Homo sapiens: one gene and its partners. The protein of the gene in region 4 interacts with the protein of the main gene of each other region in a pairwise test. Each region holds a gene or a part of one and is shown on either strand. Other genes may lie near its edges.

Region 1 (7,000 bases), on a different chromosome or scaffold from region 4:
CAGGTATGTCTTTATCAGCAGCATGAAAACAGACTAATACACTACATAATAAAGACTAAAATTCAAAGTGTTCTGTTAAAGTCTACTTAGTGATTACAACTATTTTGTGCAACATTTTAACATTTAAGATGATAAAATCAAAACCAAGCACATATAATGAGTAGACAAGACTATTTCTATTACAACAAGTTAGGCTTAGCAAAAGTATATTCTTTAACACAAAAGGAGGAAACATGTCCCAGTTGGCTCAATAATGGTTTCTAAAGCAAGCTATCAAATTTCTCCACAGTAACTGTTACTACCATAAATTTTTTAGCTTCTCAAATTAGAATACAAGAACGCTTAAACCCCAGGATCAGCATAGTATAATTCTCTAAAGCAATAATTTTAACTTGCAGATTTAGAAGACAGAAAAATTTTGAATTAATTCTTATAATAAAAATCAGTTTGAAAGATAAGAGTTGACTATAGTAACTGTGAATTAATTTTTAAGTGAAAAACTAGAGCACTAAATGGTAAAGAACAAAAAGAAGACCATTAGTCATCTTTCCTTCATGAAAGTCTCTCGATCCGTATTTCTCTGAGACAGAAAAAGAAACGTAGCGATAGTTCAGAGACCATCTCTGACACAAGTAACTTGACCTCTTGGCAAGCTACTACTGATATTTCCAGTAACAGAAGCCTGACCATTTTGCACCCTACCACCTCCTACTGCTTTCCTTTATACCTACCCTCAATGCATCAGCCACAATTCTAAAGACTAGCTTACCCCTTGATAGAGAAAAATCAAGTTATACCACTGTTGAAAGTACCTTAGGCAAAACTTAAAAACCCAAGTGCCATGGCCAGGCGCAGTGGTTCACGCATATAATCCCAGCACTTTGGGAGGCCGAGGCGGGCGGATCACCTGAGGTTGGGAGTTTGAGACCAGCCTGACCAACATGGAGAAACTCCATCTCTACTAAAAATACAAAATTAGCCCAGTGTGGTGTCAAATGCGTGTAATCCCAGCTACTTGGGAGGCTGAGACAGGAGAATTGCTTGAACTCAGTAGGTGGCGGTTGCAGTGAGCCAAGATTACACCACCGCACTCATCTGGACAACAAGAGCGAAACTCCGTCTCAAAAAAAATAAACACCCAAGTGCCATTCACGTAAAATATAAAGGTTACCAAATCACATGCTATAAAACTAACTTTTAAGATTAAAAATCTGTGAAAACAGCAACTAAAAGTAACTAACTGCATTTTTAATAAAATGCAAACTTGGCTCCTTATCTTTACGATCTGTCAAACTCTTAACTCTTCCTTCAAGGCTCAACTTGAGCCTGCCTTTTCCCCAGATTAGGTCCCCTGTTATTCTCATTAAACACTGCATTTTTACTTCATAGCACTTTAACAAGATTTTATTTAAGAATTTTGTAACTTTTCTGTATACATTAGAATGTAGGCCTCCTATAAGGGCAGGAATTGTGTCTAAACAATGGTTATATTCCTGCAATTTAGGCACAAATTTTAACACTGCAGGCATTCACTTGTTACTGCTTCAATGAACAAATGCCTTTTCAGAGACCTGTGTTAATACAGATTTTTGTTTTGGGGTTTTTTGTTTTTTGTTTTTTTAATAGCAAAATCTCTGCTTAGGAAAAGGTGTAAAACGAAAATCTATCAGAAAATACTCCATTCAGGCCAGGTGCGGGGGCTCACGCCTGTAATCTCCGCACTTTGGGAGGCCGAGGTGGGTGAATCATGAGGTCAGGTGATTGAGACCATCCTGCCTAACAGGGTGAAACCCCGTCTCTACTAAAAATACAAAAAAATTAGCCAGGTGTGGTGGTGGGCGCCTGTAGTCCCAGCCACTTGGGAGGCTAAGGCAGGAGAATGGCGTCAACCCGGGAGGCAGAGCTTGCAGTGAGCCAAGTTCACACCACTGCACACCAGCCTGGGCAACAGAGTGAGACTCCATCTCAAAAAAAAAAAAAAAAAAAGAAAAAAGAAAAAAAGCACTCCATTCAAACTGACAATATTCAGATCCCGAATGAGCCAAAGTGTGTCACACAGAGACTAAGCTTGAACTGTAGAGCATTCCAGCAAATTAAAGTAATTGAGCAACAGTAAAGAAGATGACATTCACTGCAGATAAATTCAAGTGAGTGCATGCTGGCAAGACTTTACAACTTTACCCTACACCTACAGAAAGCTATGAAGTCATACAGAAACCACCCAAGAAAAACAAATGTGTTTTTCAGAGTATTTCAGTGATGTCAGAATTCACATTGAAGGAATAAACAGAATAACACTTTGTAGGAAATAAAATTTGAGCAGTCGACGTACATTTAATCTAGATTTAATATTACTGGAGCTATTCAATTGTTTAAGTAGCAAAACTAGTCCTAAAACAGAATCTAACTTTTCTATCCAAACCCCTATTCTATGCTTGCAGAAAACTAGGGAACAACTCTGAGAATGCACTTAGGGGCCCAAAAGCTCAACTTTCTTTAGAATGAGAATATTCATGACATTGTAAAGCATATCCTAAGCTTATATAAAATGGAAGCAGGCCAAAGCAGGTGGATCACTTGAGGCAAGGAGTTTGAGACCAGCCTGGCCAACATGGTGAAACCCTGTATCTACTAAAAATACAAAAATTAGCCAGGCATGGTGGCGCACACCTGTAATCCCTATAATCCCAGCTACTCGGGAAGCTGAGGCATGAAATGGCGCAACTGCACTCCAGCCAGGGCAACAGAGCAAGACTCTGTCTCAAAAAAAGGAAAAAAAAAAAATAGGAAGCAAAAATCGTGGTTGGTCTCAAAGTTACTGCTATCATATGTAAAATTTTTAATAATACTTTTTAGACAAAAATTTGTGGATAACTTGAAGTTCACAGAAGTCAAAATCTATTCTCAGACTACCCTTTTCTCACTGATTTATTGATTAAAAACTAATTTTAGGCAACAAATTCAAGAGAAACTAGAACTGAAAAATAACTTTGTAAGGTCAGGAACTTTCTGACTCTGGTTGCTGCCTGAGAAGTAAACTATATAGGTGGGCCAGGTGCAGTGGTTCACACCTGTAATTCCAGCACTTTGGGAGGCCAAGGTGGGAAGATCACTTGAAGCCAGGAGTTCAAGACCAACCTGGGCAACACCAAGAGACCCCCATTCTCTACAAAAAATTAAACATTAGTCAGGCACAGTGATACACGCCTATAATCCCAGCTACGCGGGGAGCTGAGGCAGGAGGATCACTTGAGCCCAAGAAGTTGAGGCTGCAGTGAGCCACGACTGTGCCACTGCACTCCAGCCTAGGCAACAGAGCAAGACCCTGCCTTTTTTAGAAAAAAAAAAGATACAGGTGGCTACCATGCTTACAGGCTAGTTCTTTCAGAAACCAATATGAAATTTTATGCAGCAGAAATTTTCCACAACCAGTCTAGGCTTCTGAAAGGAAGAAAAAGAACAAAAAATTAACCTATGTATATTTTCTAGGATGAACATCTTGGATTTAGCTATGCTGTATGTAGGTTTCCAAACAGTAAAAACATCAGTAACACTGGAAACAATAAGACAATGGAGTAATGCCTTTGATATTCTCAGGGGAAAAAAAATGGCTTCTGAAATGGAAATTAAAACTCTATACCTAGAAAAAAAATAATCCATTTTTATATAAAGACAGTTGGACAATATAAGATCTCAAAAATGAACAACCTTCTTCCAACTCTTTCTAAAGAAGCTACTGCAGGGAGAAAAGAAAAGCAAGAATGTTCGCCAGCATAATGGCGAAATGAAGTCCAGGACAACTGTGAAAGCCTAGGGAAGAGTCACTCTAGAAGAGGAAGAAAGATCCAAAAGACAGATCTTTTTTTTTTTGAAACAGAGTCTCGCTCTGTCGCCCAGGCTGGAGTGCAGTGGCCGCTATCTCCTCTCACTGCAAGCTCCGCCTCCTGGGTTCATGCCATTCTCCTGCCTCAGCTTCCCGAGCAGCTAGGACTACAGGCGCCCGCCACCACGCCCAGCTAATTTTTTTGTATTTTTAGTAGAGATGGGGTTTCACCATGATAGCCAGGTTGGTCTCAATCTCCTGACCTCATGATCCACCTGCCTCGACCTCCCAAAGTGCTGTGATTTCAGGCATGCAGAAGACAGATCTTTAAGTAAATAAATGGAACTGACAGAAATGCTTCATGTATATGAAACATATTGAGAGGTAACTAAATTTAGGGAAAAAACGTGATAGAATCATGAAAAGAGAGGAAATATTAATATTATAGTATATGGCTCAGCTGTCACTGTAACAGTCATAATATTGTAAATATCAAATACTGATTTTACCAAAGAGTAACAAAATTATATTGAGGGGGAAAATAAGGGAAGGAAACAGTTTAAGAACTAAATCTTAATTTTTCCTTATAAGAAAGTCAATACATACTTAAAAAATAACCCACAAAAAATAAATATCTAGAAATATAAAAGAAAATACCAAAAGAAATGTTAAAGCAGATAAAAGTGATGGCTTCTAGAGGGAAAGAATCTGTTTTTCATTATAAATCATGGTTTCGCTTTTAACTATTAAGCAATTAAAAATATAATACAATTTTAAAGAAATAAGAACAATTCTACAAGTATCCACACAGAAAAGAAGGATGAAAAAAGGAAAACTAAACCAAAGGTCTCAGAATCCTCCTCTGGGAGACTGGAATTTCCAAAATTGGAATGGCCACAATAATTATCTCCCACATGAGCTGTCCTATAATGTGACTTTGCTGCTACTCCCTGCACATGGAGATGAAATCTATTCTCCCCCATTAGAATATGTGTGGGCCATGTGACTGTTCTGACCAATAGGATACAGTATAAGTGATGTGGTGAGTTCTAGGTATAGCCCTTAACTAGTTTGGCAGGTTGCTGCCTCGGAGCCACAAACTGCTATGTAAGAAGTCCAGGCTACTTTGCTGAAGAGACAGGCCAAATAGAAGGGCAAGGAGTTTCCAGACACATGAGTGAAAAAGACATCTTGAATATCTGGCCAGCCAAGCTTTCAGATGTTTGTTACACAGCAGGAAATAACCAGAACATCACCAGCAACAAGGAATGCTAGAACAGAATGTAGCAATGTCCACAAAGACTAGAAGGAAAGGGATATGAGCTGAGAATTCTGTACACAGCCACGACATAATTTATTCATGTGAAACAACAGAAATACTCTTCAGTAAAATCTACAGAGCTAAAAAAAAATTACATGGGCAGAGCTGACACCATACACTTTACTTACCAAACCAAAAGGAATATAAAATAATTCAACTAAAAAAAAAAAAGAGGAAAAGTGGAAAAAAAAGAATAAAAATTGGCCTGGTGTAATGGCTCATACCTGTAATCCCAGCACTGTGGAAGGCCAAGGTGGGAGGATCACTTGAGCCCAGCAATTCGAGACCAGCCCTGGCAACACAGTGAAACCCCATCTCTACAAAAAATAAAAAACTTAGCTAAGTATGGTGGCGCACGCCTGTTAGTCCCAGCTACTCAGGAGGCTGAGGAGGGAGGATTGCTTGAGCCTGGGAGGTCCAGGCTGCAATGAGCCATGAGCCACGGTCGTTCCACTGCATTCCAGCCTAGACTACAGAGCCACACTTTGTCTCAAAAAATAAAAAAAGAATAAAGATAAATGGAAGATGATAATGAACTAGAAAACTTAAATTGCTAGAACTGGCTGGGCACTGTGGCTCACACCTGCAATCCCAGCACCTTGGGAGGCCGAGACAGGCGGACCACCTGAAGTCAGGAGTTCAAGACCAGCCTAGCCAACATGACAAAACCCCATCTCTACTAAAAATACAAAAATTAGCTGGGCAGGGTGACAGACGCCTATAATCCCAGCTACTCGGGAGGCTGAGGCAGGAGAATCGCTTAAACCTGGGAGGCGGAGATTGCAGTGAGCTGAGATCATGCCACTGCACTCCAGTCTGGGTGACAGAGCAAGACTCTGTCTCAAAAAAAAAAAAAAAAAAAAATTGCTAGAACTGATAAACCCAAGAGATGGCTCTTTTTGAGACTGAGTCTTGCTCTGTCACCAGGGCTGGAATGCAGTGGTGTGACCATGGCTCACTGCAGCCTCAACTTCCCAGGCTCAAACAATCCTCCCAGCTCAGCCTCCCAAGTAGCTGATAGGTGCATGTTAACACACATGCCTAATGTTTTTATGCTTTGTAGAGATAGGGTCTCACTACGTTGCCCAGGCTGGTCTCAAACCCCTAGCCTCAAGACATCCTTCCCCCCTCAGCCTCCCAAAGTGCTGAGATTACAGCTGTGAGCCACCATGACCAGTCTAAGAATTGGTTCTTTAAGTAAATAAACAAGCCATTAGCTATCTGTGATAGGTAGCCTCTAAAATGGCCCCCAATGACCTACACTTTCTGGATACTCTTGAAATCTCCTCTCCCTTGAGTGTGGACTAGGCCCTACTCAACTGTTCCAGAATACAAATATGAAAAGTTTGCTAAATATTTTGAAGACAGTATAACATGATTCCAAAACCTGAGACAATACAAACTAAAAATGGACTAATTTCAAAAATGGACACTGATGTAAAATTCTAAATACAATGTTAGCAAAAACAAACACAGGAGTACATTAAAAAAAACACTGTACCATGACTAAATAAGGTTCTTTCCAGAAATACAAAGTTAATTCAATAACGAAAAATCTATTAATATAATTCAGTCAATTAGTTCAATGGAAAAAAAATTTACATTCACATTATATGTGAAAAAAGCATATAATATATATAATATCAAAACCAATAAGCAGTCCTCAAAGACAGAAAGTAGAATGGTAGTTGCCAGGGCTTGAGAGCAGGGAAGATGTAGAGTTATCATTTAATGCAGGGGTCCTCAACCCTTCCTACCCACCCTGCGCCCCCACCATGGTGGCGGGCAAGCCCACCTGAGCTCCGCCTCGAGCCCACCTGAGCTCCGCCTCCTGCCAGTGTCAGCATTAGATTCTC
Region 2 (7,034 bases), on a different chromosome or scaffold from region 4:
AACCAAAAAAAAAAAAACCCTGCTTTTCTGCCTGCTACCCCAGGAACAGACATAATTAGGCAAGGCCATGATATTCTTCTGCTGAAGCAGGATTCCTCTCAAGAGACAGTTGATTCTTTGCCCCCTGTTATGTATGTTTAAGCCAATACAGATGTGTGTGCACGCAGCCCTTACTCACATTAATATGCACCTAAAACATTTCATGTTTTTTCTGTGGCTGTTTGTTCAGAAGGTTCCCTATTTTTTCATTAACTTGAAATCAATTAAAATTAAGGTATATAGATTAACTAATAAGAAATAAATAATTACGTTACTGATATCAATTTTCTTTTTATCCTTCCAAGTATACTTTACATATACTGCGTAGTCACATACGCAACTTGAGTATGTTATTTAGGGGGAAAAAACATAAACATAAGTGATAGTTTATTATATTTGATTACTAATCTGACAACTTACTTTATTCTTGGAGAACATTCCTTATTCATATACACAGAGCCATGACATCATCTTAACATGCTGAAGAGTATTCTTCCATGTATGTATGGAGCACATTTTGTGAGTCTTCTATTGACAAATACAGGGTGTTTCTAACCTCTTGCTATGAATGTTATAATTGTAACATCTGCTACTCATCAACTGCTTAACATGAACAAGACACGATTTAATAAGCTTTAGCAGATTATCTCACTCAAATCTCACAATAATTTTATAAATTAGGGGTCACTGTTATATCCAGTTTACAGCTAAAGGAACCAAGTCAAAGGTTAAGCAGCAGGTCGTAGGCCACCCAGGAGCCAGTAAACAGCTGGCTCAGATAGGAACTCCATTCATCCGGCTTCAAAGGTGAATTCTAGGCCGGGCGCGGTGGCTCACGCCTGTAATCCCAGCACTTTGGGAGGCTGAGGCGGGTGGATCATGAGGTCAGGAGATCGAGACCATCCTGGCTAACACGGTGAAACCCCGTCTCTACTAAATATACAAAAAATTAGCCGGGCGTAGTGGCGGGCACCTGTAATCCCAGCTACTTGGGAGGCTGAGGCAGGAGAATGGCGTGAACCCGGGAGGCGAAGCTTGCAGTGAGCTGAGATTGCGCCACTGCACTCCAGCCTGGAGACAGAGCCAGACTCTGTCTCAAAAAAAAGAAAGGTGAATTCTAAACCATGGCTCTAAACTGAAACTCAGTTTCAGTGTTGCCTTACCCAGGTGTCTTTTTCTATGTGTGTAAGTATGTTTGAAGCATAATACAGTAATATGTGTACAAATATATTTATAGGTATATTGTGCTTTATTTATGTCTTTTTATATGCATGTCAAGATAAATTCATAGAAATGGAGTTGCCAGGTAGGTATATAATTCATTTAATACATGTGTGGTTGTCACTGGCTATGTTATTTTGGAATTGACATAATGTTTAGCTCTTCTTTTTCTCATTTCTCAAATATGAGGATGTTGTTTTCAATATCTCACCTGTAGCATTTCCTGGAACATCTCCTCTAGCTCGGTGGCAAGCTTGATCGCTTGATTCAGAAGGGTTTCTCTCAGGTTCAAGTCAGATATGCATTCCTGCTGTCTCTGGAGATTCTGCTCACACTCTTCATTCAACAACCGGAGTCTCATACTATACTCAGACTCAATCATCTTTTTAAAATTTTGTTCCTCTTCCTTCCTCATATAGACATGATAGACTTCAGGTTAAACATGATAGATTAACAACACACACACACGTCATAATAGATAGATATCTATATCTATATATAGATATATATATCTTACACTGACCACAATGTATTCTTTCCATCTCTAACCCCAATATAAAGACAAGGAAGGCTGGGCGCAGTGGCTCACGCCTGCAATCCCAGCACTTTGGGAGGCCAAAGTGGGTGGATCACGAGGTCAGGAGATCGAGACCATACTGGCCAGCATGGTGAAACCCCATCTCTACTAAAAATACAAAAATTAGCTGGGCGTGGTGGGGAGCACCCATAATCCCAGCTACTCGGAAGGCTAAGGCAGGAGAATCGCTTGAACCTGGGAGGTGGAGGTTGCAGTGAGCAGAGATTACGCCACTGCACTCCAGCCTGGCAACAGAGCTAGACTCTGTCTCAAAAAAACAAACAAACAAAAAAAGACGAGGAAATGTAAAGTACAGAAGAAAAGGAATAAACCCAAAGGAGAAATAGAATTTGAGTCAACATCAGCCAAGACATCAACACAATTTTAGAACATAAAATGCAGACGAAGAAATGTTCATCAATGAATTGGCTGGGCGCGGTGGTTCACGCCTGTAATCCCAGCACTTTGGGAGGCCGAGGCAGGCGGATCACGAGGTCAGGAGATCGAGACCATCCTGGCTAACACGGTGAAACCCCGTCTCTACTAAAAATACAAAAAATTAGCCGGGCTTGGTGGCGGGCGCCTGTAGTCCCAGCTACTCGGGAGGCTGAGGCAGGAGAATGGCGTGAACCCGGGAGGTGGAGCTTGCAGTGAGCCGAGATGGCGCCACCGCACTCCAGCCTGGGCGACAGAGGGAGACTCCATCTTAAAAAAAAAAAAAAAAAAAAGAAATGTTCATCAATAAGGAAAAACTAAGGAAGCTATAGCCTCTGTCAAACAGAGGAGGAGACCAGGACATTGGAAAAGGGCCAATGGGATTTGCTGATGCTTGGGTAAGAGTTGTGGGGAAAAAAGGAGTCATGGACGAAAGACACCAAAAATTTTAGACTAAGCAACTGGAAGAATGGAATTACCAAAATATATAGAGAGAATCTATGGAAAGGCTGGATTCCAGAAGTGAGGAGTGTGCGTTAGCTCGGGATGTGATGAATTTGATTAGTCAATTAGACATCCAAGTAAAGATAGTAAGTAGGAAATTGGACATGAAGCCTACTACCATTTGGAAATCTGAGCTAGGGATATATATTTGAAAGTAGTCATCTTAGAGATGCTTAAATAGCATCTCTATTAAGCTATTTAAGATTCAGTGAAATTGTCCGGGCTCACGTCTGTAATCCCAGCACTTTGGGAGGCCAAGGCAGGTGGATCATGGGGTCAGCAGTTCGAGACCAGCCTGACCAACATGGTGAAACCCCGTCTCTACTAAAAATAAAAAAATTAGCCAGGCATGATGACGGGCCCCTGTAATGTCAGCTACCTGGGAGACTAAGGCAGGAGAATTGCTTGAACCCGGGAGGCGGAGGTTGCAGTGAGCCGAGATCGCGTCACTGAACTCTAGCCTGGGTAACAAGAACGAAACTTCATCTCAAAAAAAAAAAAAAAAAGATTCAATGAAATCAAGATTTATCAAGAACCTGACTACTTCTCACCACTGCTCTACCTGTCCCCCAGCTCACCATCATCTCTCCCTAATTATTGCAAGTCCCTTTGCACGTCTCTCCACCTCTGCTTTTACTCTCTTGGTTTTTTTTTTTTTTTTTTTTTTTTTGAGACGGAGTCTCGCTCTGTCGCCCAGGCTGGAGTGCAGTGGCGCCATCTCGGCTCACTGCAAGCTCCGCCTCCAAAGTTCATGCCATTCTCCTGCCTCAGTCACCTGAGTAGCTGGGACTACAGGCACCTGCCACCACACCCGATTTTTTAGTAGAGACGGGGTTTCACCGTGTTAGCCAGGATGGTCTCGATCTCCTGACCTCGTGATCCGCCCGCCTCGGCCTCCCAAAGTGCTGGGATTACAGGCATGAGCCACCACGACCAGCCTGCTTTTACTATCTTAATGTCTATTTTCATTTGGCAGCTAGCGTGTTTCTATGAAAATGGAAGTTAAATCATGTCAGCCTTCTGTTCGAAACCTTCCAGTGGTTTTGAAGCTTGTATTTCATTGAAGGCTGCCACCCTAAATGACTGACCGCCTTCTTCTGATCTCATCACCTACAGCCCCCGTTTCCTTACACAGCTCCAGCCACATACACGGCAGCCTCCAGGCCTTTCCTCTGCCTAGAATATTCCTCCCCAAGAAAACTGCATGGCCCAATCCCCCACCTCCTTCAGTGCCACCTTCTGAATAACAAGGTTCTGATCACTTTATTTACAAGCTCACTCCATTGCTTCCTTTCTCACTTAAAAAAAATTTTTTTAAACACTTCCCAGGTAACATACTATATATTAAACTTATTTTGTTTATATCCACTAGAATGCAAGTTCCACGAAAGCAGAGCTGGTTTTTTTTGTTTTCCATTGGTGAGCCCCTAGCACCTTGCATAGTCCCTGGCAAACAGTGGGATCTCAGTATTTGCTGAACACATGGTACTTGGAACTGAAAAAGAAGGGGGATCGGTTGAAAAATCCTTACCTAGCCAGGCAATTCTCCTCCACTATCTTCCCTAAGTAGGCATTTATTTCCTTTAAAAATTGAGGGAGAGAAAAGACCCAGAATCGGGGATACCTTGCACAGAATAGGATTAAGTATGAAGATACAGGCTGAAATTAGAAGTGAAATATGCCTAACAGGTGGTGAACCCTCAAATCTGAATAGCTATTCTCAAATTGCTCTTTAAAGGGTTTTAGAATTTATGTGGCAACCAGAAGTACAAGAGATGCTCATTCTCCTATGTCATTGTTATAAACGGTGTCGTTAATCTTTTTGATCATTGCAAATAGCATTGCAAATGCCATTTTACTCACCATATAATTTGTATTTCTCTTACCACGAACAAAGTTCAAATTCTTTCAATGTATTTAAAATATATTTACTTTCTTTTCTGCAAACTCTTATTTGATCGTTTTTTAAAATTAAATTTCTAGTCTTTTCCTTACTGACTTTTTTTATTTTTATTTTTTTTGAGATGGAGTCTTGCTCTGTGGCCTAGGCTGGAGTCCAGTAGTGTGATCTCGGCTCACTGCAACCTCTGCCTCCCAGTTCAAGCGATTCTCCTGCCTCAGCCTCCCGAGTAGCTGGGATTACAGGCTCGTGCAACCACACCCAGCTAATTTTTGTATTTTTAGTAGAGATGGGGTTTCACCATGTTGGCCAGGCTGGTCTCAAACTCCTGACCTCAAGTGATCCGCCCTCCTCAGCTTCCCAAAGTGCTGGGATTACAGGCGTGAGCCACCACACCCAGCTTCTTACTGACTTTAAAGAGCTTTTTATACATTAAGATATTAGCACTTTTCCTTCCTATAGATTTCACATTTTTCCTGCTTTGTGATTTGTCTTTTGACTTTGTTTATGATACACTATTTTCTAACAACATTACTGGTAATTTCCCCCCAAGAATCAAGATAAGCACTCACTGACCTGAATCATCGCCATTCTTTCTTGCTCATCAGTCAATATGCTTTTAGCTGCTTCAAGTTTCTCCCTCGATGTGTTCAATATTTCCTGGAATAACTTCTATAGAGAAAGCACAGAATTCCAGGTGAGATCATTGATTTAGAACAGTTGGATTCCTGACCTTAAACAGCCAACAACTCTGAGTATATATTTTCTTAGCCTTTAGGTTGAAGGTTCAACGAACTTATCTAATATTCTGTAATAAACATCAACTAAGGTAATGGTTTTGGAGGACCAGAATGTCTGTCCATTTCATCCATATAGGAGTTGGCCAGAGTGTTTTGGGATTTGCGTGAGTGACTCTTACCCTGTAATTCTCAGCAGCCTCTTGTATCCCACACACCATGTGATGTTTGTGCTCCTGGGACTGGAAGCATTTGCTGCAGAGTGTGATTTGGTCAACATCACAGAACAGCCGTGTTGGTTCCAGGTGTGTTTCACAATAGGCATCTTCTGTGATGTTGTGCTGTAACTGAGGGCTGAGCCTTTTGGACATCCTGGTAGGGGTCCCTAGTTGAAGACTGGACTGTATGCTTCTACTGAGGTATCTCCCTGCACTGTGAATGAGAAAAAATGGTGGCTTCCTTTGTTTTCTGGAGCAGGCACACACACTTGGCAACTTCAGAGTCCACGAAGATCCAAGGAAATAAGTCCACGCAGACAGAGCGGGTCGGCGCTCTGGACTCCTCAAATCCAACAAATTTCTGGCAGCTGCCTGCTTGGGGAAAAGACAGAGTTAGGCCAGTGTTCTAAGACCAGCGGGTTTCCCTCAGGTCTTCTGACAATCTTGAGCAATAGGCTGAAAATTAATTACAAGGAACAGCACTCACTTACGAGTCATTCAGGGGAAAACAGTGCTCTAAAGGCATCGCGCTAATTACTGAAGGAACTTCAGGACTAGAGTGAGGTAACAGAGTGCGAAAGAGGTTCGTTGATAGAATTACAGAAAAAAACCACAAGTATCTGAAAAAGTTATTAAAATACTTTCCCTTTGAGAGACAGGGTCTTGCTCTGTTGCCCAGTCTAGAGTACAGTGGCGTGACCACGGCTCACTGCAGCCTCTGGAACTCCCAGGCTCCAGCGATCCTCCCACCTCAGCTTCCGGAGTAGCTGGGACTACAGCTGGGACAAAACACATGCAACAGAAGGAATGGGGAAGCAAATAAGGGAAAACAGCTCCTCTTTTTTTTTTTTTGAGACGGAGTCTCGCTCTGTCACCCAGGCTGGAGTGCGGTGGCGCGATCTCGGCTCCCTGCAAGCTCCGCCTCCCGGGTTCCCGCCATTCTCCTGCCTCAGCCTCCCGAGTAGCTGGGACTTCAGGCGCCCGCCACCTCGCCCGGCTAATTTTTTGTATTTTTGTAGTAGAGACGGGGTTTCACCGTGTTAGCCAGGATGGTCTCGATCTCCTGACCTCGTGATCCACCCGCCTCGGCCTCCCAAAGTGCTGGGATTCCAGGCGTGAGCCACCGCGCCCGGCCGAAAACGGCTCTTCTAAGAAGCCATCAATTAAAGAGATTTGCAAAACAGTGAAGCCAAAGCCACTCTTCTCAATAATTGTTTCCGAAATAAAATTTCAGGAGTGACGTGACGCGCTGCCCGCGGTCTGGCCGTGAGCGCCCTCGCTCCTTCCTCTTTGACTCCATCTTCGCGGGGGCGGCAGCCGGAACCGCGGTTCAGTCACCAACATGCAGTTCTTGGTCCGCGCCCCGGAGCTACACGCCCTCCAGGTGACCGGCCAGGAGACGG
Region 3 (7,034 bases), on a different chromosome or scaffold from region 4:
AGGTTGGGTAACTTGCTCAAGATCACACAGCAACAACTAACTGGCAGATCTGGGATTCCCACTCAGAGAAGCTTCTGCTTCCTCTTCCTTCCAGGAATCAAGGAAATTTCCCACTAAGAAAGGAGCTTTAGCTTTCCTACGATGAAAGGAAGCAGGCAGGGCACTGGGAGATGGAAAGAAGCCAAAGTGAGAGCCAGTTAACATAAACTCAGGCAATGCCTGTTATTAAATTGCAGAGGCTGAGCCAGGTGCAGGGTCCTCATGCTGGGCTCATGAATGGAATGAACATGGTCTTGGTCTTTGAATAGCTCACAGCTCATGTAGAGAAATACTCTAACAAATCATTGCAAACCTGTGTGACTCGTTATAGTTTGAGGTTACCAAGACCACTGTCAGACTCAATAATTTGCTAGAAGAACTCTTAGAATCAAAGAATCTGTTACACTCAGCGTTATCGTTTATCACAGTGAAAGGATACAGATTAAAATCAGCCAAGGGAAGAGGCGCCTGAGGCAGGGCTCAGGAGACAGTAGGTGTGAGCTTCCAACTGTCCTGTCCCAGTGGAGTTATGCAGACAGCACTTCATTATCCCAGCAACGAAGTGGGACAACACACATGAGGAACTGCCAACTAGGGAAGTTCCCCCAAGCCTTGGCATCCAGAGTGTTCGTGGGGACTTGGCCACGTACATGTGGCTGACCATAAATCACACTGTTAGCATAGGCGATCTGGCATGGCCCAAGTGCCCCAGGGAAAAAAATCTCTTATCAGGCAAGGTGTTCCAAAGGCTTCGAAGTCATCTCCCAGGAGCCGGGGAAAAGGCGAAACCTTTCTTTGGGCAGGGTTAATCCTTTACTGCACACGTGTGCTAATCAGAAAGATGGAAGATGGAGAGTGGTGTCTCAAAGGATGGAGGCATCACCTCTGCTGGAAGCTACGGCTCTTCCCTCTGTCCCCGTCTTCCTGAGGGCCACGGGGGCACCACAGAAGGATTCTGAGTTCGGGAGTGGCCTGTCGGACCTGGGTACCCCACTGGTGGTCAGTAAGAATTGACAGGGAGGTAGGGAGACCTGTCAGAAGGTATAGGAAATGAGGCCCTGACTCAGAGCAGAAGCTGAGGAGATGGAGAGGAGAGGTCAGGTGTGAAAGGGTGAGGGGGTCAGTTATGTCCAGATTGTAAATGCCAAGAAGGCGGGGGCAGTGTCGGGTTTGGCTTGCCATAGGCTACCCGAGGGTCTAATATGGTGTGTGGCTCATAGGAGGTGCTCAATAAATATTTGTGACAATAAATGAATGAATGATGAATGAATGGGAACTGGGTGAGTGACTGGAGAGAAGGAGGGGCCTGGGTAGATGATCTTGTCATCATGGTGTCTCTGTCTTCTCTTCCTGCCCCACTCACCTTCCAGGGCCCCCAGGCCTGGACTCCATCTCAGACCCCTTCAGCTGGAGCTGGATTCCTGGACTGGGGAGAGATCGGGATGCCTGGCTCCCGGGAGAGCTGGCCACCAAGCCCTCTGCAAGTGTGACTGCCAGTGTTCTGGAGAAAACAACCACGAAGGCCCCAGGGAAAATGCCTAAGAGTACTAAGAAGTGGGTGACAAAAAATGCAAAGAGACCAACCACTCAACCCCCAGTGATGCCAACCACGAAACACTCCAGGGCCCAAAGCCCCCCAGACCTAACCTCACAGACCACTGCAGCACTGACCACTGAGGCCTCCCGAAGACCTACCTCTGAGTTTACCAGAAGGCCGACCACGGAGGCCCCCCAGAGATGGACCTCTCACACCACTGCCACGCTGACCCCTCAGGCCCCCCGAGAACGGACCACTAAGACCATGGCAATGCTGACCACTCAAGGCCCCCAAGAAATGACCTCTGAGTCCACTATCAAGAGTATCCCTCAGGCCTCCCTGGAGCCATCTGCTGAGATCCCAGAAGGGTCTCCAGAGTCACCCAAAGACCCGGCCCCCTCTCCCAGTGTTAGCACCACTGGGGAATCAGGTGAGTGGCCGTGAGGGGTGTGGGGAGAGAATGGGAGAGGCTGACCCTCCCTCCTGACCTAAGGGCCTTCCACGCAGGCCTGTTCCGGGTTCGTCTGGCCGATGGGCCCAACCGCTGTGCTGGCCGGCTGGAAGTGTGGCATGCCGGACGCTGGGGAACAGTGTGTGATGACAACTGGGACCTGCGGGACGCCACTGTGGCCTGCTGGGAACTGGGCTGTGGAAAGGTCCGGCCTCGAGTAGGCAAAACCCATTACGGCCCTGGGACTGGGCCCATCTGGCTGGATGACATGGGCTGTAAGGGAAGCGAGGCCTCACTGAGCGACTGCCCCTCGGGGGCTTGGGGGAAGCACAACTGTGACCACGAGGAAGACGTGGGGCTCACCTGCACTGGTACCAGGGCATGGCGGCGGTGGTGGGGTTGTCGGGGGTGGCCAGGAGAATGGAGTCAGGGTGGGGCCAGGTGACGGCACCATGGTCGACTCTAAAGAACTGGGTATGAGGGGTCGGGGTGGGGAGATCCCAGAGTTGCTCCAGAAGATTCCAAAAGGGGAGGGAAGAGCAGCAGCAAGGACCTCTGAGAAAGAGGATGGGGTCAACCATTACCCCAATTTCTCCAAAGGCTACACAGACTATGACGATTATCCCCCCTGGACCTGGGACCCCACCTCAAGAGAGGACCTGGCCAAGGGGACTACCACAGCGGGGGTACCTGGACACACTCTCCCCTGGAGGACCACCCGGCGCCCGGGTAGCTCCTCCCCAGCAATAAGGCGCCTGCCGGACACAGGTGAGAGGCCTGATTGGGGTGGCCATGGAGGGCCTCCATAAACCTCCATTCGCTTCCCTGCAGGGTTTCCAGAAAGACCCTTCTCAATGAGCTGGCTGAGGCCTCGGGGCACCCTGGAAAGGTTTTCCTTGGCTCCTGAGACCCTAAACGCATTACCTCCTTGGGCTCAATGGTGACACTTCTTCAGAGCCAAGGACACCATCTAAGAGATCAGGCTAAGCTCAGCAATCCTGAGCCCATGGCCCTCCTGTAAGCCACACAATATGCAAGCCTGGGGCCCTCAGTCAAACCCACAACCAAGGGCCATTCTGTCATCACATCATCGTCCCCACCCCAGCTCCCCCAGAGCAAGCGAAACCTCACCCATTCTTGAAGCTCACGCTCTGGTCCGGGCCTGGTATGGCTCAGAGGTGGGGACTCCTGGAGTGCAGCTTCTCTCCTTACCCTGGCCATCCCCTCCCTCTGGCCAGCAGAATCAGCCTCCAGGGCCACAGCTCCATCCCCCTCTGCTCTATGGCCTCTGTCTTGCTGCTGCAGCTCCTTCCACACCTGGGACCACGCCCCGCTTTGGCCCCCACATCACTGTCACCACATTCTTCTGCCTTTTTCTTTGCCTGTCTTCCTTGTATCCCCATCTCTCAGGATCCCTGCGAATCCATCTCTGCTCCTGTTTCTCACTTGCTGTTGGTCTCTTTTTTTCATTATCCATTTCTCACCCTCATCATCTCTATCTCTGTATTGCCCAGGATGGAGTGCAGTGGTGTGATCTCAGCTCACTGCAGCCTTGACTGCCCGGGCCCAAGCGATCCTCCTGCCTCAGCTTCCTGAAAAGGTGGGACTACAGATGTGCGCCACCACACCCGGCTCATTTTTAATTTTTGTAGAGACGGGCTCACTATGTTGCCCAGGCTGGTCTCAAACTCCTGAGCTCAGGCGATCCTCCTGTCTCACTCTCTCAAAGTGCTGGGCTTATGTCTGGGTTTATAAGTGTGAGCCACCATGCCTGGCCTCACTTCATTTTCCATGATCAAATTCTCTATCTTTTCTTCTCTGTGCCAATCTCTTTTTGCCTTTCATTTTCAATTTCTCACACTCGTCTTTATGCCGTATTTTTTTCATGGTAATTTCTTTTGCTCTCTCTCACCATCTTTCTCATTTTTTTTCTTTCGTTGTCAGTTTCATATTCCCATCATTTCTTTTTCCCTGTCTTTCTTTTTCAATTTCTCACCCTCATTACATCTATTTCTCACTCCAGTTTTCGTGGTCAGTTTCTCTTTATTTTTTTCTCCCTTGTCCTTCTGTCTTTTTGTTTCATTATCAGTCTCACACTCTCATCTCTGTTTCTCACCTAGTTTTTCCTGGTCAATTTATCTGTCTTTCCCCCTCAGTCTTTCACTTTTCTTTCAGATCTCACCTTCACCACCTCTGTTTCTCACTCCATTTTTCATGGTAAATTTCTCTCTCTCTTTTTTGAGACAGGATCTTGCTCTGTTGCCCAGGCTGAAGTGCAGTGGTGCGATCTCAGTTCACTGCAGCCTTGAACTCCCAGGCTCAGGTGATCCTCCGACCTCAGCCTCCTGAATAGCTGGGATTACAGATGCACACCACCATGCCTGGCTAATTTTTTTTTTTGAGACAGAGTCTTGCTGTGTTGCCCAGGCTGGAGTGCAGTGGCGTGGTCTCGGCTCACTGCAACCTCCACCTCCCGGGTTCAAGTGATTCTCCTGCCTCAGCCTCCTGAATAGCTGGGATTACAGGCGTGTGCCACCACTCCCGGCTAATTTTTGTATTTTTAGTAGAGACGGGTTTCACCATGTTGGCCAGGCTGGTCTCAAATTCCTGACCTCGTGATCCGCCTGCCTCGGCCTCCCAAAGTGCTGGGATTACAGGGGTGAGCCACTGCTCCCGGCCTGATTTTTTGTCGAGATGGGTTCTCACTATGTTGCCCAGGCTGGTCTCAAACTCTTGGGCTCAAGTCATCGGCTTGCTGCGGCCTCCCAAAGTGCTGGAATTGCAGGCGGGAGCCACTGGGCCCAAACTGTTTCTGTATCTTCCGTCCTCTTGTCTTTCACTTTCAGTTCTCAGCTTCGCCACCTGCTTCTCACTCGATTTTTCACGGTCGGTTTTGCTATATCACCTCATACTCTCATCGTCTCCATTTCTCACTGCGTTCTCTCCCCAGGCCCAGCGCTGTGGTATCTTTTCCTTTGTCTCTTACGGTTGTTTTCTGAGTCTCCATCTCCCGCGCCTTCCCTGCAGTCTCCCGCGTGCTCTCTTCTCTCTCCCCCTCGTTTCTCTCATGGTCAGCCCCCTTCCCTCCGTTTCTGTCTCCCGCGGGCTCCTCTGTCCGTTTCTCACCGTCCCCGCCGCCCTCGCCGCTCCCTCACGGGAGGTTTCACTCCCCACCTAAGGGGCAGCGTTTCTGTCCTCCCTCTGTGCCCGTCGCAGTCGCTGTTTCTCCGTCTTCTCCCTCCCTTCCACTCTCCCGCCCTGCTCGCCGTCTGGGGCTGCCTGGGTTTCTGCCTCTGTCGCCCCGCGCCCCGTACCTGTGCCCTCCTGAGAGGCCCAAGCCTCCCGCTCCCGCAGGAGAGTCTCGCCGCAAGCGTCCTTTCCCGCCTTTTTTTTTTCTGGCGCTCAGCACGCATGCGCAGGCGCGGTGGGCCCGGGAATGGAGGGACGGGATGGGGCAGGCGTTCATCTGCCTCGCACCTCGTGACGTCACAGGCGCGCTGCGCCTCCTGATTGGCCAGCCGGCGCATCGCCCGCAGTAATAATAGCTGGGCGAAGGGCAACCAGGCCCCAAGAAGCGGGCCTTGAGGTGGGGAAAGGGAGGGAGGAAGCAGGCCCTAGAGGCGCCGTGACTTGGGGGTGGGTGGGCTCCAGCTGTGAGTTAGAGCTATCATTCCGTTTCCAGAGCCGGAAGCGGGAGCTCCGAGAGGTGATGCTCCTCGTTCAAGGACTGCCAGGGTTGCAGCGCCTCCCTAGCCCATAGCGCCCCCTCGTGGTGGAGGCGGGCACGTGCCGGGCACAGCGGCTGCGGAGACAGCGGGTCCGGCCTCGGGACCCCTCCCGTAGGGTAGGGAGGCAGCCAATGAGCAGAAATAAATGCAGAATCACAAACTGCGCCGGTGAAATGAAAAGACAGCCATGTGTGCCACCTTATCAATAGGAAGACTTGGAGGCGTATGCGGGGTGGAGTGGGAGACGAGGCAGGCATGCATTCTTAGCTTCAGGAGCAATGTAACCTTGAAAAAGTGACTTGGTCTCTTTGAGTCCCCGTTTCTTATTTATATTGTTTTATTTATTTATTATTTATTGAGACGGAGTCTCGCTCTGTCACCCACGCTGGAGTGCAGTGGCGCTATCTCAGCTCACTGCAACCTCTGCCTCCCAGGTTTAAACGATTCTCCTGCTGCAGCCTCCTGTGTAGCTGGGATTACAGGCGCACGCCACCACACCGGGCTAATTTTTGTATTTTTAGTAGAGACGGGGTTTCACCATGTTGGCCAGGCTGGTCTCAAAGCCGACCTCGTGATCCACTCGCCTTGGCCTCCCGAAGTGCTGAGATTACAGGTGTGAGCCACCGCGCCCGGCCACCTGTTTCTTTCTCTGGAAAAAAAATGGGGCGCCAGGGTTGTTGGAAAGGTGGAACGAGAGCTCACCTAGTCTGTGCTGGGCATGCATGACCCCAACTTCAGGCCATAGAAACTGTTGCTACACCTGTGTTTCAGATGGGGTAAAAAGTGAGGCTCAGAGAAGTTTAACTTAGGAGCCACGATTATAACCTGTTTTAAGTGATTTCACACGTTTTGCTCCTTGGATTGGGAACCATATGCTAAAATAGAAGCACGAGTCTGGAGTCCGACTCTCCTACCAGGTTCCAATCGTGGTTCCAACCCGGATTAGAACTAGTTGGGTGACTGCAGGCCCCAATTCAATGAACAAAATGTGTGTGAAATCGTTTAAAACCGCAGAATATTGTTTGTTAGGGTTATTTGCTGAAAACGAACAACAGCTGCAGGATTTCAGGGAACGAGCGATTATTTGTAGTAGAGAAATCAAGGAAACCTCACAGGGGAGATGATATTATTTCATCAGCAGGCCACAAGGAGAAATGAATTCTCAGAGAAGCAAAGGGTGGGAGAAATTTGCATTGCCAGAAATTTTCATCGGTGTTATCCATCTCTGCTAGACTTTAAGCTCTGTGAAAGATCTGTATCTATTTCAATTGCTGCCATA
Region 4 (7,034 bases):
GCAATGGCGCAGTCTCTACTCACTGCAACCTCCACCTCCCGGGTTCAAGTGATTCTCCTGCCTCAGCCTCCCAAGTAGCTGGGATTACAGGCGCCTGCCACCACGCTCGGCTAATTTTTGTATTTTTAGTACAGACAGGGTTTCACCATGTTGGCCACGCTGGTCTCAAACTCCTGACCTCAGGTGATCTGCCCGCCCCGGCCTCCCAAAGTACTGGGATAACAGGCGTGAGCCACTGCACCCAGCCCCCATCAAAAGTAAATTTTAAAAATGTCAACATTATCAAAAAAACCATTCCATTTCACATATGAAAAAGAACAGCAAAAACAACAAACCTAAAGTTATAAGAGGGAGGAAATAATAATGATAGGAGCTATAAATAAATAAGAAAACATGTCATGAAATTTAAATAAATGTGCCAGGAGCTTGTTATTTGAAACAGCTAATTAAAACAGGCAAAACTGTCAAATACAAGGTTTTAAAATGTAGAAAAATGGGAGAAACTTAAGATGTGAGCTACAGCAGCACATTTTATTTTTTTATTTTTGAGAGACAGGGTTTCTCTTGTCACCCAGGTTGGGTTGCAGCGGCATGCTGTGCCTCACTGCAGCCTCGACTTCCCAGGCTCCAGAGATCCTCTCACCTCAGCCTCCCAAGAAGGTGGGAACTACAGACACATCCCACCATGCTCGGCTAATTTTGTTTTGTTTTGTTTTTGGTAGAAACGGGGTCCCACTATGTTGCCCAGGGTGGTCTTGAACTTCTGGGCTCAAGCGATCCTCCCGCCTCGGCCTCCCAAAGTGCTGGAATTACAGGCGTGAGCCACCGTGAGCGGCAGCAGATCTTTTATTGAACTTAATGTGCATTAAGTGCCTGCGTGTGTCAAACAATGTTTTAGATTTTTAAAAATAATCATAAAACATTCCATGCATGACTGATTGTAAAAACGACTATGCCCAGGGCAGTTTTGTTTAAAAATATTCCGCCGGGCGCGGTGGCTCACGCCTGTAATCCCAGCACTTTGGGAGGCCGAGGAGGACAGATCACGAGGTCAGGAGATGGAGACCATCCTGGCTAACACGATGAAACCCCGTCTCTACTAAAAATACAAAAAATTAGCCAGGCGTAGTAGCGGGCGCCTGTAGTCCCAGCTACTCGGGAGGCTGAAGCAGGAGAATGGCGTGAACCCGGGAGGCGGAGCTGGCAGTGAGCTGGGACTGTGCCACTGCACTCCAGCCTGGATGACAGAGCGAGACTCCGTCAAAAAAAAAAAAAAAAAAACCACCATATATATATATGTATTTTACAATGGACAAGTGAAAAAGTTGACTAAAAGTAGAGATGACCTTAAAATAACTATGAAAATCATCCCCTCCCCTGTTTAACACTGAGACCCAAGCGTTATGGATAAATTCTATTTTTACGTAGAAAAATGATGCTATGTTAGAGAAGCTGATTCATACACAGAACACATTCAAAACCACTTCACAAAATCATTCCCAAGCTATCATCCGATCTCCACTCCCAATGGAGACAGAGATAAAATTCTTGGCTCATGACAAGGACTCAGTAATGTGATAAAAGAATAATATACCAATTAGGGTTTATCACAGGGAGCGAAGGATTGTTCAATTTGAGACAATCTAAAAATAGCATCCACCCCATCAATAGCTTAGGGGAAAAAAATCATATGATCATTTAAAAATACCAAAAGGCATTTGAAAAAATTCACCACCACCCTCCTAAGACAAAATGGAAAAAAGGGAATGCAAAAATATTTCTCCAACATGCTGACAAGGATTCTAAAATAAGAGCTGGTATTAATATGATAATCAGCAGAGAAGTACTAGAGATGCACTCGAAAATCAGGAGCCAAACAAGCATGCCTGGCCGTGCCCCACCACGACGTTTTAGAACATGAGAGAAATGCCACAGGATAGACAGGGAAGCAAGAGGGGCACGTGTTAGAATGCAGAGACAACGGCACTCTTAATAACTGATGCTGCGGCTTGACGAAAGCAAACAGCACATACAAGAAAAGCATTCAAAACAACAACCGACAAGCTGCATTTCTACAAACAAAAACCACTTAGGAAATACGCAAGCAAAAGAAATGCCAATCACATCACACCTGTAATCCCAGCACTTTGGGAGGCCGAGGTGGGCGGATCACCTCAAGTCAGGACTTTGAGACCAGCCTGGCCAACATGGTGAAACCCCGTCTCTACTAAAACTACAAAAATTACCCAGGAGTGGTGGTGGGCGCCTGTAGTCCCAGCTACTCGGGAGGCTGAGGCAGGAGAATCACTCAAACCCAGGAGGCAGAGGTTGCAGTGAGGCGACATTGTATCACTGCACTCCAGCCTGGACAAGAGTGAGACTCTGTCTCAAAAAAAAAGAAAAAGAAAAAGAAAAAGAAAACAAAAAAAAAGGAAATGCCAATCACGGATGCAACAACCTATCATCACCACGACTGCCACAAAAAAACCACCAAAGACCACCCCTGACATCATACGCACATGACTTCCAAGAGCAAGATCTCTAAAACCGGTCTAACTTGTATCAGTAGACACTGATGGAGAACTCTCTTATGTTCCTGAAAAGTCTGACTGAAGACCAAGACGCAACCATGGATGTTACGAATGCCTCACAGCATGGCTAGGACGTGGGCCCCTTCTAAGGTGAGAAAACCGAGGCTCAAGGAGGTGGTTTCCATTTCCCAGGGTCATCTGTGAGCACATGGTGACCTCACACAGCCTGTTTGGAGCAGAGCTGGCATTGCCACCCTTGTCTGGGTGACTCGGAAGCCTGGGATCTTCCCATGCTACCTTCTAATCCACCGCCTATACCTTGATACTTGGGGATATCAAACGATATTCTACAAAGATTAATACTTGAAGGGAGCAGGTCTTACATGGTATTAAAATATACTCTAAAACAGCAAGACTCAAAACAGCATGATACTGGGACAGAAATGGAAATGTGGAATCGTGGAGGCCCAGAATGAGGCCCAACTATTGTTAGATATATGGCAAAACAGAGACTGTCTAATACATGGCGGTCACTAACTGAGAAGCATGGGAAAATTGCACAGAATGGGTTTTAATATCTGGCTGAGCGTACAGTAGGAGCGTATTGATACAAACCAGCAGGTGCCTTTGCTCCGAGCTTGGTCCTGCATGCTCAATAGCTCAGAGGCCTTACTTGGCTCAATCTCTGAAGGACTTCGTAATTCATAAGGTGGATGTCTCCATTTCACAGATGGAAAAACTGAGGCTCAGAAAGGGAAATAACCAGCTCAGATCCCTCAGCCAGGTCTGGCTGGCTTTATCAGCTAAGTTCCCCGGCCTCAACCGGCAGACAAGGCTGGGCTTTTCTGGACTCCCAAAGCTCAGGGTGCTGGTGGCTGCTGCCTCGAGCACCTGTGGGTCCCTCACCCTTGCATGCTCCCAGTTCCCTCACCGTGGGCCTGGACCAGTGTGCCCTATGGCTGCTCTCTGCTCCTGGATGACTGACTCTCCAGTTGCCTCCTGGGTGTGCCTGGAGTCTCATGCTACACTCCCATGCCTATTGCCAGGTCCCTGACTCAGTTTCCCCACTCATCCCAGCCAGCAGCTATGGCTGTCTGGCTGTGACTCTGTTGAGTTCACCTTTGTGAGCCTCTGTTTCCATAGCTGTGAGATAGTGGAGGTGACAGCAACCACCCATAGGGTTGCTGTGAGGATTAAACCAGGTGCTGAGCATCGAGAACCTGATATGGGACAGGGTTCAGATGCATGAACCACCACCCCCCACCACGCCCCACCCCGCCCCCTCTTCCAGTCTTGTAAGCCCACCCTGAAGGGTACGACACCTGTCTGGGGACCCCTTAAGGGCACAGGGTGATTGCGGCCACCCTTTCTAAGGCCCCAGCCCAGGATCAGGCCTGATTCCGGGAAAATGCCTCCTGCTCCCAACCAGAGCCATTCACCAAACCATTCTATTCCCTTCCCAGTTCATCTCAGCTGCTTCAAAGAGGCCCAGGCAAAGCCCACCCCTGAGATAGGCCTCCCTGGCGGCCTGTCTTCAAAAATCCAGGCATCCTTAGGCAAGGGTGGAACTGAAGCAGCACTGGAGCCCTGGACCCCGGGGGCCACCTACACCCACTGACCTTCTTGGTATAACCCATGGCCTTCAGGACAGAGTGATTCAAGGTCTCCAGGGAGGCCAGGACATCCTCATAGTCACCCATGTGGTCCACAAAGTAATCTGGGGAAGGAAAGGCAAAGGTCAGGGGTCACAGGTCCTGCCCCTCCCACTCAGCACTCCTGCACCTCCCACCTGCGCTACCTCCAGCCTCCCCTGCCTCAGGCCCTTCTCATCCAGCCCCATCCCAGCATCCCCATCTTGGTCCCAGCATAGCCAGGCACCTACCACACAGCTCCTTGGTGTCCACATGGCTGCAGAGACAGACAGAGGCAGAGACAGACAGAGACAGAGAGGGGGTTAGCAGGCCTGACCCTGCACAGCCTGCGAAACACACATCCTGCCTGCTCTTTGCAGCCTGTGTGCTGGCCCCACAAGCTCCGCCTTACAGAAGAGGGTGCAGCAGGTAGGTGACACCCCCGCCCCTGAAGGCCCACGTCTGTCTGATCCCCCACACCACCCACCCTTGTTCTGTTTTCTCGGAGTCTGCTGACCCCATCATGAATAAATGACACCAAGGGGAGGGCCAAGCTGGGGGCCAGGAAAGGGGTAAAGGGACAGAGAGTGGGGACCCATTACTGTGACGGGCTGTCAGCAAAGCTCTCATCTGACCCACTGACCCACCCCCAGTCGACCCTGCCTGCTGGGTCCTGGAGTTCCTGGGGTTGTGGCAGAGCCCTTCCTGTTCTGGTCGCAGCCCCTGGGTCCCATATCCCCATTCCTACAGCCTGGAGAAGGGTCCTGTCCTTTCTTGGGGGAGCAGGCTGAGCATGAGCCTATCCCCCATGGCAGTGAAGGAGCACAGACCGGCCCCAAGATAAGGGGTGCAGTGCTGGGAACTATGGTGGTTCTGCAGCTTAGGAGCAGATTTGATAAGCTGAGGCCCTCTGGGACTGGCTAGAGATGGTCTGGATAAGGAGCTACTGCCAAGTCAATGTGCAAGGGACCCAATACGGTGGTGGCCCTTTCTGGGCCTAGGTCCCTCATCGTGCTCAGTGGAGCCCAGGCTCAGCAAAGCACATCTGGACAGAAGGCTTCTGTGGCCCAGTGAATCTGCACTCGGGGGCTCTGCATGCTCTGTCAGGAGGTGCCTCCAACCTCCATCTCATATTCAGAGTTCTGGCAAGTCCTGCAGAAAGCGACCCTGTCATTCTGCTTTAATTCATGTTTCACAAAACTTTTTGATGGTTTGTACACTGTTTTGGGCACAAAGTCTATTTAGCATCCCAAGGGGCTAATGTTCGTGGCTCACACCTTAGGTAATGTTGGGGAGATTAATCCTAAAAGTCTTTATAGAGCTTTGACCTTCCATAACCGCGAGTCCTCCCTGCACCCCCACCCACCCACACGTACTCTCACAGTTCGACTCTCAAACCAGTGCCTCCTCCTCCCTCCGCCTCCACCCCCTCCTCTACCCCGCTGGTCCTAACACAAAAGGCCCTGAAAGAGAAGGTCTAAATCAATGGGCACCTGCCTGGCCCCTTCAAAGCACCCCAGGAAGCTGCAGTAACAGCTCAGAAATCTCCATCTGGCCCCAGACAGTTCTCCATTCTGCAGTCTGGAGCCTGAAGCCATTTCTTTAAAGTGGCCTTTCCCAGAGGATGGTATCTGCTCCACTTACCATATCCCGGTCCCCAGCCAGTGCCCCCCAGGACTCTCTCAGCCGCAGCCTCTGGTCCAAACCACCACTGTACTCTACCCCTTGCACACTGGTTTGGTGGTAGCTCCTTGTCCAGACCATCTCTAGTCAGTCTCAGAGAACCTCCGCTTACCAAATGTGCCCTAAGCAGCCCTCCAGAAGCTTGGGTCCTCATCACGCGAGTAGGCCTGAGAAAGGAGACCAGGTGGGGCTCTGATCCCTCCTGAAGGTGGGGTTGAGGAGAGGGCTCAGACCTCATCCTGTCTGGGGAATCCCAAGAAAAGGGCAAGATTGGAGGTGAGGCTGGGAAGGGTCAAGGGTAAGTCTGAGTAGAATCTGCATTTTCCACTTGATTTAGAGATGGGTGGAGACAGAGTTTTTGGCTGATTCTGAGATGCAGGTCAGGGTTATGACTGGGTTGGAGAAAAGGTTTAATAAGCTATAATGATAGACGTAGTGTTGAGTTAGGATTCGTGTTTGGTTTAACACAGGAGTCAGTGTTAGGATGACGTTCAACCTCACAGTTAATGTTGGGACTGGGAGGACACACAGGCATTGGGGTTGGGGTGAGAACTGGCTGCTGGCTGAAGATGGCAGAAGGATGAAGTCATTGCCACCTTCCCATTTTCATAATCCCATGTCCACTGTGCAAAACCAGGAGTCTCTCCTTAGTTGGCCATGTGCACTCAGAAGACACACTTGCGATAGTAGCCAATGCAATATGAATCTGCACACGCCCCATTCACCCCAGGCAGTGAAGAGCTGACTTCTGGATTAGCAAATTTGGGGATTTTCAGTTCTCCTGCCCCTTACAGGGGACTAGGAACGGACACTAGATGAAAAGATGCCTCCACCACAGCCCACACACACCCCCACTCTGCCAGCCAGGACTGAAGCTCACTTGGTGTTGTCAGAGTCAATCGTGTGAAAGAGATCCTCCAGTTCTTTCTCATTAAGGACGCCATCTGCAAAGAAGAGCTGGAATTCCTCCAAGGACAGCTTCCCATCATCTGCAAGGAAGGAAGCAGAGAAAGGAGCTGGTGTCTGCAGAGATAAGGCTGGTGGGGCTAGTGCATGCACGGCCCCCAAATCCAGTCAATGGCCTGACTGACAGAACAACTGCAGCTCAGATAATCCCTACCCTCCCAGCTAATCCCCAAACTAAAAGACAAATTCCATTTTAGATAATCCCTACCCACCCAGCTAATTC

The links.
Region 1: the proteins of NECAB2 (region 4) and TRIM59 interact in binary tests that used the Homo sapiens proteins (3 or more experiments, as listed by UniProt).
Region 2: the proteins of NECAB2 (region 4) and TRIML2 interact in binary tests that used the Homo sapiens proteins (3 or more experiments, as listed by UniProt).
Region 3: the proteins of NECAB2 (region 4) and SSC5D interact in binary tests that used the Homo sapiens proteins (3 or more experiments, as listed by UniProt).

What each region holds. Positions count from the first base shown.
Region 1 is NC_000003.12:160,439,787-160,446,786, forward strand, and holds part of TRIM59 (tripartite motif-containing protein 59), read right to left. Parts: intron 1-7,000. UniProt on the Homo sapiens protein: E3 ubiquitin ligase involved in different processes such as development and immune response. Serves as a negative regulator for innate immune signaling pathways by suppressing RLR-induced activation of IRF3/7 and NF-kappa-B via interaction with adapter ECSIT.
Region 2 is NC_000004.12:188,099,585-188,106,618, forward strand, and holds part of TRIML2 (probable E3 ubiquitin-protein ligase TRIML2), read right to left. Parts: intron 6,427-7,034; exon of another isoform or gene 6,007-6,426; 5' UTR 5,785-6,006; coding exon 5,596-5,784; intron 5,349-5,595; coding exon 5,253-5,348; intron 1,690-5,252; exon of another isoform or gene 1,676-1,689; coding exon of another isoform or gene 1,667-1,675; coding exon 1,472-1,666; intron 1-1,471.
Region 3 is NC_000019.10:55,498,407-55,505,440, forward strand, and holds part of SSC5D (soluble scavenger receptor cysteine-rich domain-containing protein SSC5D isoform 1 precursor), read left to right. Parts: intron 1-1,409; coding exon 1,410-2,006; intron 2,007-2,083; coding exon 2,084-2,398; intron 2,399-2,627; coding exon 2,628-2,795; intron 2,796-5,709; coding exon of another isoform or gene 5,710-5,780; exon of another isoform or gene 5,781-5,935; intron 5,936-7,034.
Region 4 is NC_000016.10:83,978,244-83,985,277, reverse strand, and holds part of NECAB2 (N-terminal EF-hand calcium-binding protein 2), read right to left. Parts: intron 6,835-7,034; coding exon 6,726-6,834; intron 4,440-6,725; coding exon 4,414-4,439; intron 4,249-4,413; coding exon 4,151-4,248; intron 1-4,150. UniProt on the Homo sapiens protein: May act as a signaling scaffold protein that senses intracellular calcium.